Linked DNA regions of Homo sapiens: region 1 is linked to region 2. Evidence: fine-mapped expression QTL. Tissue or cell type: anterior cingulate cortex. Region 2 holds a variant in brackets; the other region holds the start of a gene. All regions are shown on one strand. Distances are from middle to middle.

Region 1 (5,925 bases), 41 kb after region 2:
GCCTCATTAATACCCCTCCAGCATTAACATTAACAAAGACCTTAAGTCTGATCAGAAACATGTACAATCTATTTTCTATGAAGCCTATTACTGGAGGCTTCATCTGCATGATAAAACCTTGCTCTCCTCAACCCCTTATCTTAACCCAGACATTCCCTTCTGCTGATAATAGCTGTTCAACCAACTGCCAATCAGAATTTGTTTAAATCTACCTATGACCTGGAATGGAAGTCATGCCCCCCACTTCAAGTTGTCCCACCCTTCCAGATCAAACGAATGTAAATCTTACAGGTACTGACTGACATATTATGTCTCCCCAATGTGTATAAAAGCAAGCTATACCCCAAAAAACAAAAAACAAAAAAAAAGCAAGGTGCACCCCAGCCACCTGAGGCTGTATCACAGGTGTGTCCCTAACCTTGGCAAAATAAACTTTCTAAATTGACTGAGACCTGTCTCAGATATTTTGGGTTCACACTAGTAACTGCACTATTGGACACACACAGCTCTAGAGAGGGAAGACAGGGAAGAGATACATAAGTGAAATGATACGGTATCACAGAAAAAACGTTGAGCAAAATAAGTCAGATTTTTTTTTTTTTTTTTTTTTGGAGATAGAGTCTCGCCGTCGCCCAGGCTGGAATGCAGTGGTGCGATCTCGGCTCACTGCAAGCTGTGCCTCCCAGGTTCACGCCATTCTCCTGCCTCAGCCTCCTGAGTAGCTGGGATTACAGGCACCCGCCACCACGCACAGCTAATTTTTTTTGTATTTTTAGTAGAGACAGGGTTTCACTGTGTTAGCCAGGATGGTCTTGATCTCCTGACCTCGTGATCTGCCTGCCTCGGCCTCCCAAAATGCTGGGATTACAGGCATGAGCCACCGCGCCCAGCCCCCCTTTTTTTTTTTGAGACAAAGTCTCACTCTACTGCCCAGGCTGGAGTGCAATGGCACTTTCTTGGCTTAGTTCAACCTCTGCCTCCCGGGTTCAAGCAATTCTCCTGCCTCAGCCTCCCAAGTAGCTGGGATTATAGGCATGTGCCACCACACCCAGCTAATTTTGTATTTTTAGTAGAGATGGGCTTTCACCATGTTGGTCAGGCTGTTCTCGAACTCTTGACGTCAGGTGATCCACTTGCCTCGGCCTTCCAAAGTGTTAGGATTACAGGCGTGAGCCACTGCGCCTGGCCCAAATTTTTTTTTAAAAGTACATACTGTGTGATTTCATCATACAAAGTTCAAAACTAATCTATAATAATGGAAGTCAGGAGACAGTTGCCTTTGGTGCTATTGACTAGGAGAGTAAGAGTGAGGCTTTTGGGGTAATGAAAATGTCCTATATCTTGTTCTGACGGTAGTGATGAGGGGGTCTGCATAGGTTCGAATCCATTGATTTCCATGTAAACTCAAGATCTGAGCACCTAGTAAGGTGTGATTTTTACCACATATGTTATATACATAACAATAAGTAATATTTATATTATATATGTATAATCCTATTATGTACGATTATGTGCTATAAAGAAAATAAGGCAGGAAAGGAGGATTGGCTATAGCCGCCTCCCGGCCTCCCTGCTTCCATCCTTGCCAGTGACCTCCCCCAGGTACCCCCTCACCATCCCCACTCTCACTTCCACCTCCCCAACCTCCTCAAGTCAGTTCTTCCCAGAATAGCTAGAGGAGTCTTTTTTAAAAGATAATTCCCACAATGCCATTCTCTGGATTCAAAGCCATCACTGGGGCTCTGAATCCACACCTGGCCTGGCCCCAGGGCATTTGCGCTTGCTGGCCCTCTGCCCAGAGCACCCTGTCCTGCACTCTTTGCCCGGCTGCCTCCCCCTCCTGCCTCAGGCTGAAGACTTCCTGGACACCAGCAGAGCAGTCCCCATCACCTGGTTGTACTTTGTTCACAACACTTATGACTCTCTGAAATCATCTTATTTATATGTTTAAAAATAATTTATTTCCCCCGCTAGCAACCTCAGCTCTGGGACATGGATCTTCTGCTCTCACGTTCACTGCTATATTTCTTAGCCCCCTTGGACTAAAGTCCTTACACATTGCAGGTGCTGAATGCATAACTGTTGAATAAATGAGAATATTGTAACTGTGTTCCATTTATCTCTCTGAGCTCATCTCCCATGATTTCCACTCTCTCTTACTCCTCTTTGCTATTCCTTGAATATGCCAGCACATTTCCGCCCCCAGACCTTTGCCCTGGCTGTTCCCTCCACCTTGAATGCTCTTCTCCCAGAGACCCCCCTGCTTTGCCGGTTAGGAAGGACTTCCCTCCCTTTAGGTCTTTGCTAAAATTTCACATTCTTAGTAAACTCTTCCCTGAGCACCCCATTTAAAACTGCAAACCCTGGCCAGGTGCGGTGGCTTACGCCTGTAATCCTAGCACTTTGGGAGGCCAAGGCGGGTGGATTGCTTGAGGTCAGGAGTTCAAGACCAGCCTGACCAATACGGTGAAACCCTGTCTCTACTAAAAATACAGAAAAAAAAATTAGCTGGGCGTGGCAGTGGGTGCCTGTAATCTCAGCTACTCGGGAGGCTGAGGCAGGGGAATCGCTTGAACTCAGGAGGCTAAGTTTGCAGTGAGCCGAGATTGCCCCACTGCACTCCAGCCTGGGTGACAAAGCAAGACTCTGTCCCAAAAAAAAGAAAAAGAAAAAGAAAAAAAAAAAAAACACCTGCAAACCCTTCTCACACCACCACTCCCACAGCTCGATTCTTATTTTCCCTTTCCTTGCTTATCACCTGAGATAGATGCTATTATTAATAGCATCTATTGTAATGTTTTACTTCTTTGCCTCACACACTAGAGTGACAGCTCTACAAGGGCAAGGATTTTTATCTTTCTTGCTCACAGCCCTATCACTAAATGTAGAAAAATAATTTACATATAGTAGGTGCTCAATAAAAATGTGTTGCATGAGTGAATATCTGTCTCCCTTACCACATGTGCGCATGGGCAGGGGGGCTCTCTCACATTCACCTCTGTGGCAGCAGCACCTGGCACTGCCCTGGCACAGCTTCCAGGACCAGGTTGTTCTCTCTTTCCTCCGAGACATCTTCCACCCAACACTCCCTGCTGCCCCCACTTCTGGCCTTCTCCCACACTAGCCCCCATGCCCGCTCACCTCCCCAAATAGTACAGGCCTTAGGACAGTGGAGGGGGAGGTGACTGCACTCTCCAGCTTTCTTACCAAAAGGTTGTATTTTGTTGGAGAAAGTGAGCCCCTGGTGAGGAGGAAGAGAAAGAAGAAGAGAAGGAACAGCAGCAGCAGCCATTGGGGTAGCATCATGGCCCACAGGTCGTGGTGGCTTTTCTAGGGTCCAGCGAAATATCCTGCACGCCGACCATGTGGGTGTCCTCCCAGCTGTGGGAACACCATGTAAAACCAGCACCCAACCCCGTCAGAATTTTCCCATCCTGCACAATACTCAGGCTAGGCCAATCAGCAAATTCCACCACAATAATTAGTTCAGGCAGACTAAGCCAATCCAATCAGAACCGATCTTAGGATGTTTGCTGAAAATTGTGGAACAGAGATGTTTTCTTTCTCTGAAAGGCACAGTATTGATGTACATGGTGGATTTGTGGTTAAGAGCCTGGCCTCTGGGGCAGGATTGTCTGGGTTCAAGTCTCAGTTCCAACCCTTACTTTAGGAGCCTCGATACCCTGTTTGTAAAATAGGGATAATTATAACACCTACTATAGCCCTGTTGTGACAAAAAGATGAGTCAATACAGTTAAGAAAGCACTTTGGGCCAGGCGCAGTGGCTCATGCTTGTAATCCCAGCACTTTGGGAGGCTGAGGCAGGAGGATCACTTGAGCCCAGGAGTTTGAGACCAGCCAGGGCAATACAGTGAGGCCCTGTCTCTATTAAAAAAAAAAAAAGAAAAAGAAAAAGAAAAAAAATTGGCCGGGCATGGTGTCACACACCTGTAGTCCCAGTTACTTGGGAGGCTGACGTGGGAGGATCTTTTGAGCCCAGGGGGTTGAGGCTGCAGTACGCTGCGATCGAGCCACTGCACTCCAGCCTGGGTGCTGTCTTAAATTTTTTAATTAAATGAAAAAGAAAGCACTTTGCACAGTGTCTGGCACATAGGAAGTGCTCAATAAATCCTACCTGTTATTAGGTGACACCTGGAATGTTTGTGACTACTGGGAAGGAATTCAGCCTGAGAGCTGCTGGCTCTGGCCCTACCTAAGGGTTGCCTGACCTCTGGACTTTCATTTCCCATCACCAGTAAATCCCCTCCTCACCTAGACCAATTTGAGTTGGTTTTTAAGATACTTGCAGCAGAAAGAGGCCTCACTGCTACCCCAATGATATGACCTAGGGCAAGTCATGTCGCTTCTCTGGGCCTCAGTTTCTTTGTCCATGCAGTGAACCGACAATACCTGAGAGAGCGGAGGCATCCATGCACCAGGTCCCTTTCCCACCACAGGCATTTCTGCATTTATACTTTGCACATTCTCACCAACTCTCTAATGATCTCTACCCTTTTGTGCCCCACAACCCGCCCCGCAAAACATTCAGATACCTCCACCTAGTCTCTCCCTACCACACACCCCTCCATAGGCACCCCAACATACACTCTCCAGGTACATTCCTCAATCCCGTCTCTCCCACACAGCCCTCCAACCAGAGAATCAGCCCTTTCCCAGACCCAGCCCCTGCTCCACCACACCCTCCCTGTGCCATTCCCTTCCTGCAGTTCTACCCTGACCTCCGGACAGGGCCAAATCCCATTAGAAGCTCATTCATGCCTCCAGTCTCCCCTTTTGCCTGCCCCCTGGACTGGTACAATCTCCACCAGGTCCCCTCGCCCAGAAAGTACAGACAGAGGCCAAGGACAGGAAGTGACTTTAATGTCTCAGGAGCTGGATTTGGAGCAAGTTGGTGGCAACCAGGGCCTATGGCCCCAAGGGAGCAGTGACCAGCCTGCATCTTCCTCTAAATCATATGGCACCGGCGGGAACACATCAAGTCCTTGGATATGCACGTCAAGCCCATCCGGCAAGGGCAGATGATGTTGGTAGCTCCCTTGGTCTGCAGGGAGTGGGTATGAGAATCGGGAGTCACCAGGATGCAGGAAGGATGGGGACTTAAACTTCTTGGGGACCAGAACCAAGAGTACCAGGCCTGGAGTAAGACAGACCTGGGCTGTCTCTACAGCTTATAACTGCGTGACCTTCAGCAAGTCAATGAACCTCTCCAGCTCGGTTTCCTCATCTGTCAAATGGGGACAGTAATAGTAACCCCCCTCATAGGGTTGTTGTGAGGACTAAATGAGATAGAGCAGATCAAGTGGTGATAATAAAAAGACCCTTTAGGCCATGCGCGGTGGCTCACCCCTGTAATCCCAGCGCTTTGGAAGGCCGAGGCGGGTGGATCACCTGAGGTCAGGAGTTTGAGACTAGCCTGGCCAACATGGTCATGGACTAATAATATAAAAATTAGCACATGCCTGTAATCCCAGCTACTCCAGAGGCTGAGGCAGAGGAATTGCTTGAACCCAGGAGGTGGAGGTTGCAGTGGGCCAAGATCACGCCATTGCACTCCAGCCTGGGCAACAAGAGCAAAACTCTGTCTCAAAAAATAAAAAAAATAAAAACCCTCTAGCCACTTCAGCTATAGGGTCAGGCCATGGTAGGGGCCCTGCTGCTTCCTTAGGGCATTGGCAACTCCCCACACAGGGACATAGAGGCTGGGTCCATCCATCCTAGAAAGGTTTGGGCCCAGGGCCAGGTGGGCAGGAACAGGGCGTACTGAGCATTCTGCTCCCTGCATTCCTAAAAGCGAGTGACAACCATGCTGGACTGCACACTCTCCTTGCCAGGACCACATAATCTTCCCAACAGCCTGGTGGGGTAGGTACTTTAGCCTCTCCTTGTAGATGAGGAAACTAAGGC
Region 2 (9,868 bases):
AATGACTGGCCCTTCCTATTTTGACCATATCTACTCAGGGCTGTCAGTGAAGCTCGAGCACCATAACTGACTCTACAGAACAGCCCAAAGCAGAGAGAGGCAAGCCAGAGTGAGAAAAGAATAAGGTTGACTTCATAAAAGGAGTGCTGACATTACTGATTTTTGTTTGTTTTTTTGTTTTATTTATTTATTTATTTATTTATTTATTTTTGAGACGGAGTCTCGCTCTGTCACCCAGGCTGGAGTGCAGTGGCACAATCTCGGCTCACTGCAACCTCTGCCTCCCAGATTCAAGCAATTGTCCTGCCTCTGCCTCCCGAGTAGCTGAGCAAGGTGTGGGTTATAGGCAGATGCACCTTAAGCCCCTAGCAGCTTCTGCAGACCACTAAAGTTGCCATTTCAGTGAAATATTTTGAGAATAGACTTTTTTTTTTTTGAGACAGAGTCTTGCTTTGTTGCCCAGGCTGGAGTGCAGTGGTGCAATCATGGCTCACTGCAGCTTCAACCTCCCAGGCTCAAGTGATCCTCCCACCTCAGCCTCCCAAGTAGCCGGGATTACAGGCATGCGCCACCATACCCAGCTAATTTTTGTAATTTTTATAGAGATGGGTTTTTGCCATGTTGCCCATGCTAGTCTTGAACTCCTGGCCTCAAGTGATCCTCCCACCTCAGCCTCCCAAAGTGCTGGGATTACAGGCGTGAGCCACTACGCCTGGCCAAGGATAGACTTCTGGAAATTTTTTTTGTACCTCTTCAAAAAGTAAATTATGAGATAAATGATAGAAAAGTCACTAAGCTACAGAATTTGTCAAATTTTGTCATTCATCAAGCTTGCATAAAGTAGATACTGACTGAATTAATTAATTAATTAATTAATTAATTTTTTTTTTTGACACGGAGTTTCACTCTTGCTGCCCAGGCTGGAGAGCAATGGCACGATCTCGGCTCACTGCAACTTCCGCCTCCCAGGTTCAAGCCATTCCCCTGCCTCAGCCTCCCGAGTAGCTGGGAATACAGGCATGTGCCACCACGCCCGGCTAATTTTTTATTTTTAGTAGAAACGGGGTTTCACCATGTTGGTCAGGCTGGTCACAAACTCCCAACCTCAGGTGATCTGCCCACCTTGGCTTCCCAAAGTGCTGGGATTACAGGCGTGAGCCACCGTGCCTGGCCGACTGTGAATTAATTTTATCAACAAAAGAAAATATGAATGTCCAGGCTGGGCAACATGATGATACCCTGTGTCTACAAAAATTAAAGATTAGGCGGATGTGGTGGTACACACCTGTGGTCCTGGCTACTTGGGAAGCTAAAGGCAGGAGGATTGCTTGAGCTGAGGAAGCCGAGGCTTCAGTGAGCCGTTTTCACGCCACTGCACTCAAAACATATATACAGCCTGGGCGTGTTGGCTCACGCCTGTAATCCCAGAACTTTGGGAGGCTGAGGTGGGCGGATCACGAGGTCAGGAGATCAAGACCATCCTGGCTAACACAGTGAAACCCCATCTCTACTAAAAATACAAAAAATTAGCCAGGTGTGGTGGCGGGCGCCTGTAGTCCCAGCTACTTGGGAGGCTGAGGCAGGAGAATGGCATGAACCCGGGAGGCGGAGCTTGCGGTGAGCCAAGATCGCACCACTGCACTCCAGCCTAGGTGACAGAGCGACACTCTGTCTCAAAAAAAAAAAAAAAAAAAAAAATACAAAATTAGCCGGATGTGGTGGCACACGCCTATAATCCCAGCTACTCGGGAGGCTGAGACAGGAGAATCGTTTAAACCTGGGAGGCAGAGGTTGCAGCGAGCCAAGATCGCGCCATTGCACTCCAGCCTGGGCAACAAGAGCAAGATTTCGTCTCAAAAAATATATATAAATATAAATATATATATATACACACAAATGTGATCATTCTCATAAACTAGCTGCCATGGACCAAGTGACAAGATCAAATCCCATTATGGAAGTTCCCACCACCAATTTAACTGTGACAACACTGGGATACTCATTCCTAGTGACTGAGCAGGTTGTCACAGTGCATTGGCCAAACACACAGCTGACAGCCAAAGATAGGAAAACTGTTCCTGTATCACTGATCGGTTGATCAAGCAACAAGATTCATCTGTTCAGCTCTTTACCCACACTTCCCCTATGAGAGAACAGCACACCCAGGTAGTTTCTTTACTAACTAACTGGACAAGGACCAGAAAAAACACCTTTTCCTCAGAATTGTTCACTGCAGACAATCAACAAAATCCTGTTTTTATGCACCACCCCCCAGGGAGGGGACAGCCTAAAGAATCGATTTTGGTCTTGGCTTTTGCTACAATGAACTATTACCTAAATTGAATTCCCCTTTGGAGGCCAACTGAAGGTTCACCATTTAGTAGCTGGTCCTCCGTATCTGTGGGTTCCACTAAGCAGATTCAATCAACCACAGATGTAAAATATTCAGGAAGAAAAGCCAGTAAAGAATAACAATACAGGCCGGGCACGGTGGCTCACACCTGTAATCCCAGCACTTTGGGAAGCCGACACAAGCAGATCAGTTCCAGACCAGCCTGGCCAACATGGTGAAACCCCATATCTACTAAAAATACAAAAATTAGCCAGGCGTGGTGGCGGGCACCTGTAATCCCAGCTACTCGGGAGGCTGAGGCAGGAGAATTGCTTGAACCCGGGAGGCGGAGGTTGCAGTGAGCTGAGATCATGCCACTGCACTCCAGCCTGGGCAACAGGATGAGACTCCGTCTCAAAAATAAATAAATAAACAAATAAATAAATTAGCCAGGCATGGTGGCACATGCCTGTAATCCCAGCTATTCAGGAGGCTGAGACAGGAGAATCTCTTGAACTTGGGAGGCAGAGGTTGCAGTGAGCTGAGATGGCACCTTTGCACTCCAGCCTCGGCAAGAAAGCGAGACTCTGTCTCAAAAATAAATAACAATACAACAACAAATACAAATTAAAAGCCACACAGTACGAGTATTTACATAGCATTTACATTGTATTAGGTATTATAAGTAATCTAGAGATGATTTAAAGTATACAGGAGGATGTGCATAGGTTATATGCAAATACTACGCTATTTTTAGCTGAGGACTTGGGCATCCATGTATTTTGGCATCTGCAGGGGATCCTGGAACCAATCCCCCTATAGATGACTATATGCCAAATCCAAAGTTTTTGAAAAAAAAAAATGTCATCTATTCCTATAACAAATTACTTGAACATAAGTAACACATTTCTGAAGCTGGTAGCCAGTTCTGGTTGAGTCAGTGTGGGCACCATAAGGAAATGTGATATTTGGCTCCCGGGAGGAAAAAAGTCTGCAGAGATTTTAGATCCTATCACCCACTCTTCATAAAACTTCCTGGTGGATGTTAAAGGATTCAAGTTCTGATGGCCCCTCCATTCCTTACCCCCCTCTGAGCAGCAATAAGAAAACAAAATATGAGAAGGGAGAAGCAAAAGACCCCCTACACCTCACCCTAAAAATGACCCAGCACATGTCCAGCCACCTCTTCAGTGCCCTCTTAGAGCTGGTTGGGCATTTGTGTGTGTTTGAGAGAGAGAGAGAGTGTGTGTGTGTGTGTGTGTGTGTGTGTGTATATATATGTGTGTGTGTATGTATGTGTGTGTGTGTGTGTGTGTGTGTGTGTGTGTGTGTATATATATGTGTGTGTGTATGCTATCAGACACAGACCTGGGAGGGAAGGCCCCTAGAGATGGACCCATTTAGCCCTCTCGCTTTACAGAGGAGAGGCTTCAAGAAGGTGAAGCGATTTGCTGCTGTGTGGAACTAAGAAATGGACTTGGATCCCATCCCCAGCAACTGAGCACTCCCTGCACCGCTCAGCCTCTGAATATCTTTGAAGTGGGTCACTGCAGTTCTGCTTCCCCAGAAAGAGTACAGTAGGAGGTCTTGTCTCAGGAGACTGTCCAGTTTTAGTGTTATAATAAAAGGCTTCAGGCTTCAGGCCTATAGTAGCCAGGAACAAGGAAACTTGGAAGAACAAGTTCTTATCTCTGAAGAATTTGATTCCCTAGTTTTCCTGTGTCTGGGAAATAGATGACCTGTGGTATAAGAAAAACAAAAGAACAAAAGATTCCAAGAGTTTAAAATCTGACATTTTAAAAACCAATATAGGCTGGGTGCAGTGGTTCACGCCTGTAATCCCAGCACTTTGGGAGGCCAAGCCGGGTGGATCACTTGAGGTCAGGAGTTCGAGGCCAGCCTGGCCAACATGGTGAAACCCTGTCTCTACTAAAAATACCAAAATTGGGCTCACACCTGTAATCCCAACACTTTGGGAGGCCAAGGCGGGCGGATCACGAGATCAGGAGATCAACACCATCCTGTCCCTCCTAAAAATACAAAAAATTAGCCAGGCGTGGTGGCACGTGCCTGTAGTCCTAGCTACTTGGGAGGCTGAGGCAGGAGGATCACTTGAACCTGGGAGGCAGAGGTTGCAGTGAGCCGAGATCAGACCATTGCACTCCAGCCTGGACGACAGAGCGAGATGCTATCTCAAAATAAATTACAAAAAACAAAACAAAACAAAAAAACTATGTATCAAAAATAAATAATAAACACTTCCCTATGTATGCTCAAATTTTGACTTCAGTTCTACCTAGACATGCAAATTTCCTCATTCATGTGTAAGATAGTACTGATTGTCATTCAAGTAAAAACTTAGGTCTTTTAAAATGTAGTGTGAGGAAAAAAAAGGCAAACAGAGAGGTGTGGTTGCCCTTTGATTCAGTAATGCCACTTGGGATATTATCAACAGAAGCAAAAAGTTTTGTTATCTATGATAGCAACCCTAAATGTCTAATAACCAAGGTCTGGTTTAAAAAATGGTACACCAGGCAGGCGCAGTGGCTCATGCCTGTAATCTCAACACTTTGGGAGGCTAAGGCAGGAGGATGACTTGAACCCAGGAGTTCGAGAACATCCTGGACAACATGACAAAACATCGTTTCTTCAACAAACAAACAAAAAAAACAAAATTATTATAGCTGGGCAGGAGGTATGTGCCTGTAGTCCCAGCTATTCAGGAAGCTAAGGTGGAAGGATGACTTGAGCATCAGGAAGTTGAGGCTTCAATGAGCTGTGATTGTGCCACTGCACTCCAGGCTAGGCAACAGAGCAAGACCCTGTCTCAAAAAAAAAAAAAAAAAAAAAAAAAAAAAAAAAATTGTGGTACACCAGTGCTGTGGAGTTTCTGGCTTTGAAAAACCTAAATTAAAAATATTGCAAAAACATAAAAAAGGGAGCCGAGCACGGTGGCTCATGCCTGTAATCCCAGCACTTCTGGAGGCTGAGGCGGGAGGATCACCTGAGGTCGGGAGTTCGAGACCAGCATGACCAACATGGAGAAACCCCGTCTCTACTAAAAATACAAAATTAGCCGGGTGTGGTGGCGCATGCCTATAATCCCAGCTACTTGGGAGGCTGTGGCAGGAGAATGGCTTGAACCCAGGAGGCGGAGGTTGCCATGAGCCAAGATCATGTCATTGCACTCCAGCCTGGGCAACAAGACTGAAACTCCGTGTCAAGAACACACACACACACACACACACACACACACACACACACACACACAAAGATTATGCTCTAATGCTTTTTTATGCAAAATGTGATTCCTGTTTGAGCAGCCTGTCACCCAAAAACTCATTAGAAATGCAGGGTCTACGGCCCCAGACCCACCCCACCAACTGAATCAGAATCTGCATTTTTTTTTTTTTTTTTGAGACTCAGTCTTGCTCTCTCTCCCAGGCTGGAGTCCAGTGATGGGATCTCAGTTCATGGCAACCGCCGCCTCCTGGGTTCAAGCGATTCTCCTGCCTCAGCCTCCTGAGTAGCTGGGATTACAGGTGCATGCCACCACACCCAGCTAATTTTTGTATTTTTGGTAGAGATGGGGTTTCCCAATGTTGGCCAGGCTGGTCTCTAACTCCTGACCTCAGGTGATCTGCCTGCCTCAGTCTCCCAAAGTGCTGGGATTACAGGCATGAGCCACTGCACCCAGCAGAATCTGCATTTTAACAAGATCCCCAGATGACTGTATGCACGCTGAAGTTTGAGAATCATGCTCTAATAAGTGCAGGAGGTGGAGGTGACAATTTTATGTATGATTATTTTTAAAGTATATGTGGTCAAGGATTGGAAGGCACTTTGCAAAAATAAAAACAGCTTAAATGGAGCTAAACCCTCCTTCCCACAGAAAGCGCCTGGTCGGCTGTAGGTCCTCCAGGCAGCTGTTAGGGAGGCAACACTGTTGTGAGGGTTTCTTTTTCTTTTTTATTTTTTTAATTTTATTTTATTCTATTTTATTTATTTATTTATTTATTTTGAGATGGAGTCTCGCTTTGTCGCCCAAGCTGGAGTGCAGTGGCACGATCTCAGCTCACTGCAAGCTCCGCCTCCTGGGTTCACACCATTCTCCTGCCTCAGCCTCCCAAGTAGCTGGGACTACAGGTGCCCACCACCACACCTGGCTAATTTTTTGTATTTTTAGTAGAGACGGGGTTTCACCATGTTAGCCAGGATGGTCTCGATCTCCTGACCTCGTGATCCGCCCACCTCAGCCTCCCAAAGTGCTGGGATTACAGGCGTGAGTCACCGCGCCCGGTCCTCTTTTTCTTTTTTAAATGCATTCCTGAATGTTCTTGTTAAATCACATTTAACAAATGTTTGGAAACTTAAAAGATAAATGAATATGTTGCGCTTCTTTTTAAACCAGACATTAAAACTGGTTAACTTACTGTTTTTCTTTTTGCCTCGGCTATGAGGAATCAGAGCTAAATTTAATACTCAAGACAGTAATACTATTAGTATAGCTTTTTTGAATATTTGTTTTTCTGTCTATGACTTTTATTTTCTATTTTATTAGGTTTTCTAGTATGTTTCTTACAAATCACTTAAAAATTCTTTCTGAAAATAAGGGTCCAAATTACAATAATGACTTCTAAAAACAGTCTGTTCTTGTGTGCCAGGCTCCATAAAACATGAATTTGTGTTTGAAATTATTTCTTCTTTCCCTGATCTTTTTCCGCCTTTCAAGACACAAGTAAGGCCAGGCGCGTGGGCTCACACCTGTAATCCCAGCACTTTGGGAGGCAGGGGCAGGCAGATCACCTGAGGTCAGGAGATGGAGACCATCCTGGCTAACACGGTGAAACCCCGCTTCTACTAAAAATACAAAAAATTAGCCAGGCATGGTGGCACGCACCTGTAATCCCAGCTACTCGGGAGGCTGAGGCAGGAGAATGGCTTGAACCCAGGAGGTGGAGGTTGCAGTGAGCCGAGATCGCACCATTGCACTCCAGC[T/C]TGGGCAACAAGAGCGAAATTCCATCTCAAAAAAAAAAAAGACACAGGTAAAACTAAAGGCTTCCTGTTTGCTCCCCAGTGAGGGTCTCAGAGGCCAAATAGCTCCTGCCCCAGTGGGGTGTTGGTCCTCTCTCCCCAAGCAGCATCACAGCCTTACAGCCCAGCCCCTGGTGTCCTGATGCCTGAGGATTCAGTAAGGAAGCAGAGAGCCCCAGCCTTTCTAAGGGCACGCAGACCACCCTCCCATAGAATTACTCACCGACCCTTCAGCTGCTTCACACCTCCTCTGTAATGAAGGAGAGAACAGTATACGTTACTACCAAGTCTCGTTTTTAGGATAATTTCCTGCACACTACTCCATCTCCAAACTACATCAGATTCCTCTTACTCTCAAGAAAGCTTGCACTTTTTTGTTCATATCATTTATCAGCTTGTAACTGTATCGCATGATTGTCTCCCTTACCAGACCATAAGCTCCAACTTAGATTTCCCTTAACCACTGTACTTCCAGTGCCTAAAGGCATTGTTAGGCAGCTGAAGCACATTAGCTGTTATTGGTTGGGCAGATGGGTGATATAAAAAATGAATATGGCCCGATGCAGTGGCTCACACCCATAATCCCAGCACTTTGGGAGGCTGAGGAAGGTGGATCACTTGAGGCCAGGAGTTCGAGACCAGTCTGGCCAACAAGGTGAAACCCTGTCTCTACTAAAAATACAAAAAATTAGCCAGGTGTGGTGGCACATGCCTGTAATCCCAACTGTTTGGGAGGCTGAGGCAGGAGAATCGCTTGAAAATGAGAGGCGGAGGTTGCAGTGACCCCAGATCACGCCACTGCACTCCAGCCCGGGTGATGACGGGGCAAGACTTTGTCTCAAAGGAAAAAAAATAGTGAATATGCTGGAAAGACAGAAAGGAGAAAGAACTATCAGATCTGCTACTGTGGCATCAAAAAAAAAAAGGGAGAACTAATTTATTAATCACTTGCAATGTGCAGGCATTGTTAGTGCTTTATATATGCTATGAGATCCTCAGCACTTCCTTTTTTTTTTAATTAATATAATTCACTAACAAGCTGGATGCAGTGGCTCACACCTATAATCCCAACACTTTGGGAGGCTGAGGTGCACACCAGGATTCTGAGACCAGCCTGGTCAACATGGTGGAACCCCGTCTCTACAAAAAAAATTTTTTTAAAAAGCCAAGTGTGGTGGTATGGGCCTGTAGTCCTAGCTATTTGGGAGGCTAATATGGGAGGATCACTTGAGCCCAGGAGGTGAAGGTTGCAGTGAGCTGAGATCATGCCACTGCACTCCAGCCTGGGTGACAGAGCCAGAATCTGTCTCAAAAAAAAAAAAAAAAAAAAAAAAATACATATATATATATATATATATATATATATGGCTTTTAGTATATTCACTAGATTGTGCAACTATCATCACTAATTCTAAAACATTTTCATCACCCCAAAAAGAAACCCTGTGCCCATTAGCAATCACTCTTGTTTCCCCTCCTTCCTAGCCACCTCCTAATCTGCTTTCTGTTTCTATGGATTTGTCTATTTTGAATATTTTATAGAAATTGAATCACAGATATACAAATGGAAACCAGTCTTTTGTGTCTGGTTCCTTTCATTTAACATGTTTTCAAGGTTCATCCACATGGTAGCAATGCTTACTACTTCATTCCTTTTTATGGCTGGATAATATTTCATTGCATGGATATACACATTTTGTTTATCTGTTCATCAGGAGATGGAATATACTAAAAACCACTGAATTGTATTCCATTTTTTGGCTATTATGCTGCCATGAACATTTGTGTATAAGTTTTTGTGTGAACATTTGTTTTTAATTTTCTTGTGTGTACACCCAATAGTGGAATTACTGGGTCATATAGTAACTCTATGATTAACCATTTGAGGAACTGCCAGGCTGCTTTCTGCAGCAGTTGCAAAAGATTTGCATTAGTAGTGAATGAGGGTTCCAATTTCTCCACTTGCTCACCAACACTTGTTATTATTCACCTTTTTTATTATAATCATCTTAGTGGGTGTGAAATTGTATCTCAATGTGGATTTGATTGGCATTTTTACAATGACTAATGATGTTGAGCATCTTTTGGTGTGCTAATTGGCCATTTGTATATCTTCTTTGGAGAAATCTCTATTCAAATCCCTTGCCCATTTTAAGCATTGGGTAGTCTGTCTTTTCATTGTTGAGTTATAGGAGTTCTTAATATATTCTGGATTCTAGATCTTATCCAATTATAATTTGCAAATATTTTCTTCCATTCTGTGGGCTGTCCTTTTACTTTCTTGATGGTGTCTTTTGAAACAAAAAAAAATTTAAATTTTAATGAAAGCTGATTTATCTATTTTTTTCTTTTAAGATTTTTTTTTTTAGATTGAGTCTCGCTCTGTTGCCCAGGCTAGAGTGCAGGGGCACAGTCTTGGCTCACTGCAAGCTCTGCCTCCCAGGTTCACACCATTCTCATGCCTCAGCCTCCTGAGTAGCTGGAACTACAGGTGCCCACCAC

The links. PIP is the estimated chance that this variant, and not a neighbour inherited with it, causes the effect.
Region 1: CLPSL1 starts here. The variant in region 2 is the best candidate, but not a certain one, in a credible set for the expression of CLPSL1 in anterior cingulate cortex (GTEx, PIP 0.64).

What each region holds. Positions count from the first base shown.
Region 1 is chr6:35,778,492-35,784,416 of GRCh38, reverse strand. It overlaps CLPSL1 (colipase like 1), which reads right to left and starts at 3,398. Exons shown (of 3, transcript NM_001010886.5): 1 at 3,208-3,398. The coding sequence starts at 3,306. CLPSL2 (colipase like 2) reads right to left here. Exons shown (of 3, transcript NM_207409.4): 3 at 4,865-5,062. The coding sequence ends at 4,967. RefSeq lists an enhancer at 1,786-2,287.
Region 2 is chr6:35,817,185-35,827,052 of GRCh38, reverse strand. It overlaps LHFPL5 (LHFPL tetraspan subfamily member 5), which reads right to left. Exons shown (of 4, transcript NM_182548.4): 3 at 7,590-7,616; 4 at 2,983-4,071. The coding sequence ends at 7,606. Among named protein-coding and RNA genes, the nearest start is that of LHFPL5, 17 kb to the right of the region's middle. The variant T/C (reference allele first, on the strand shown) is at 7,331.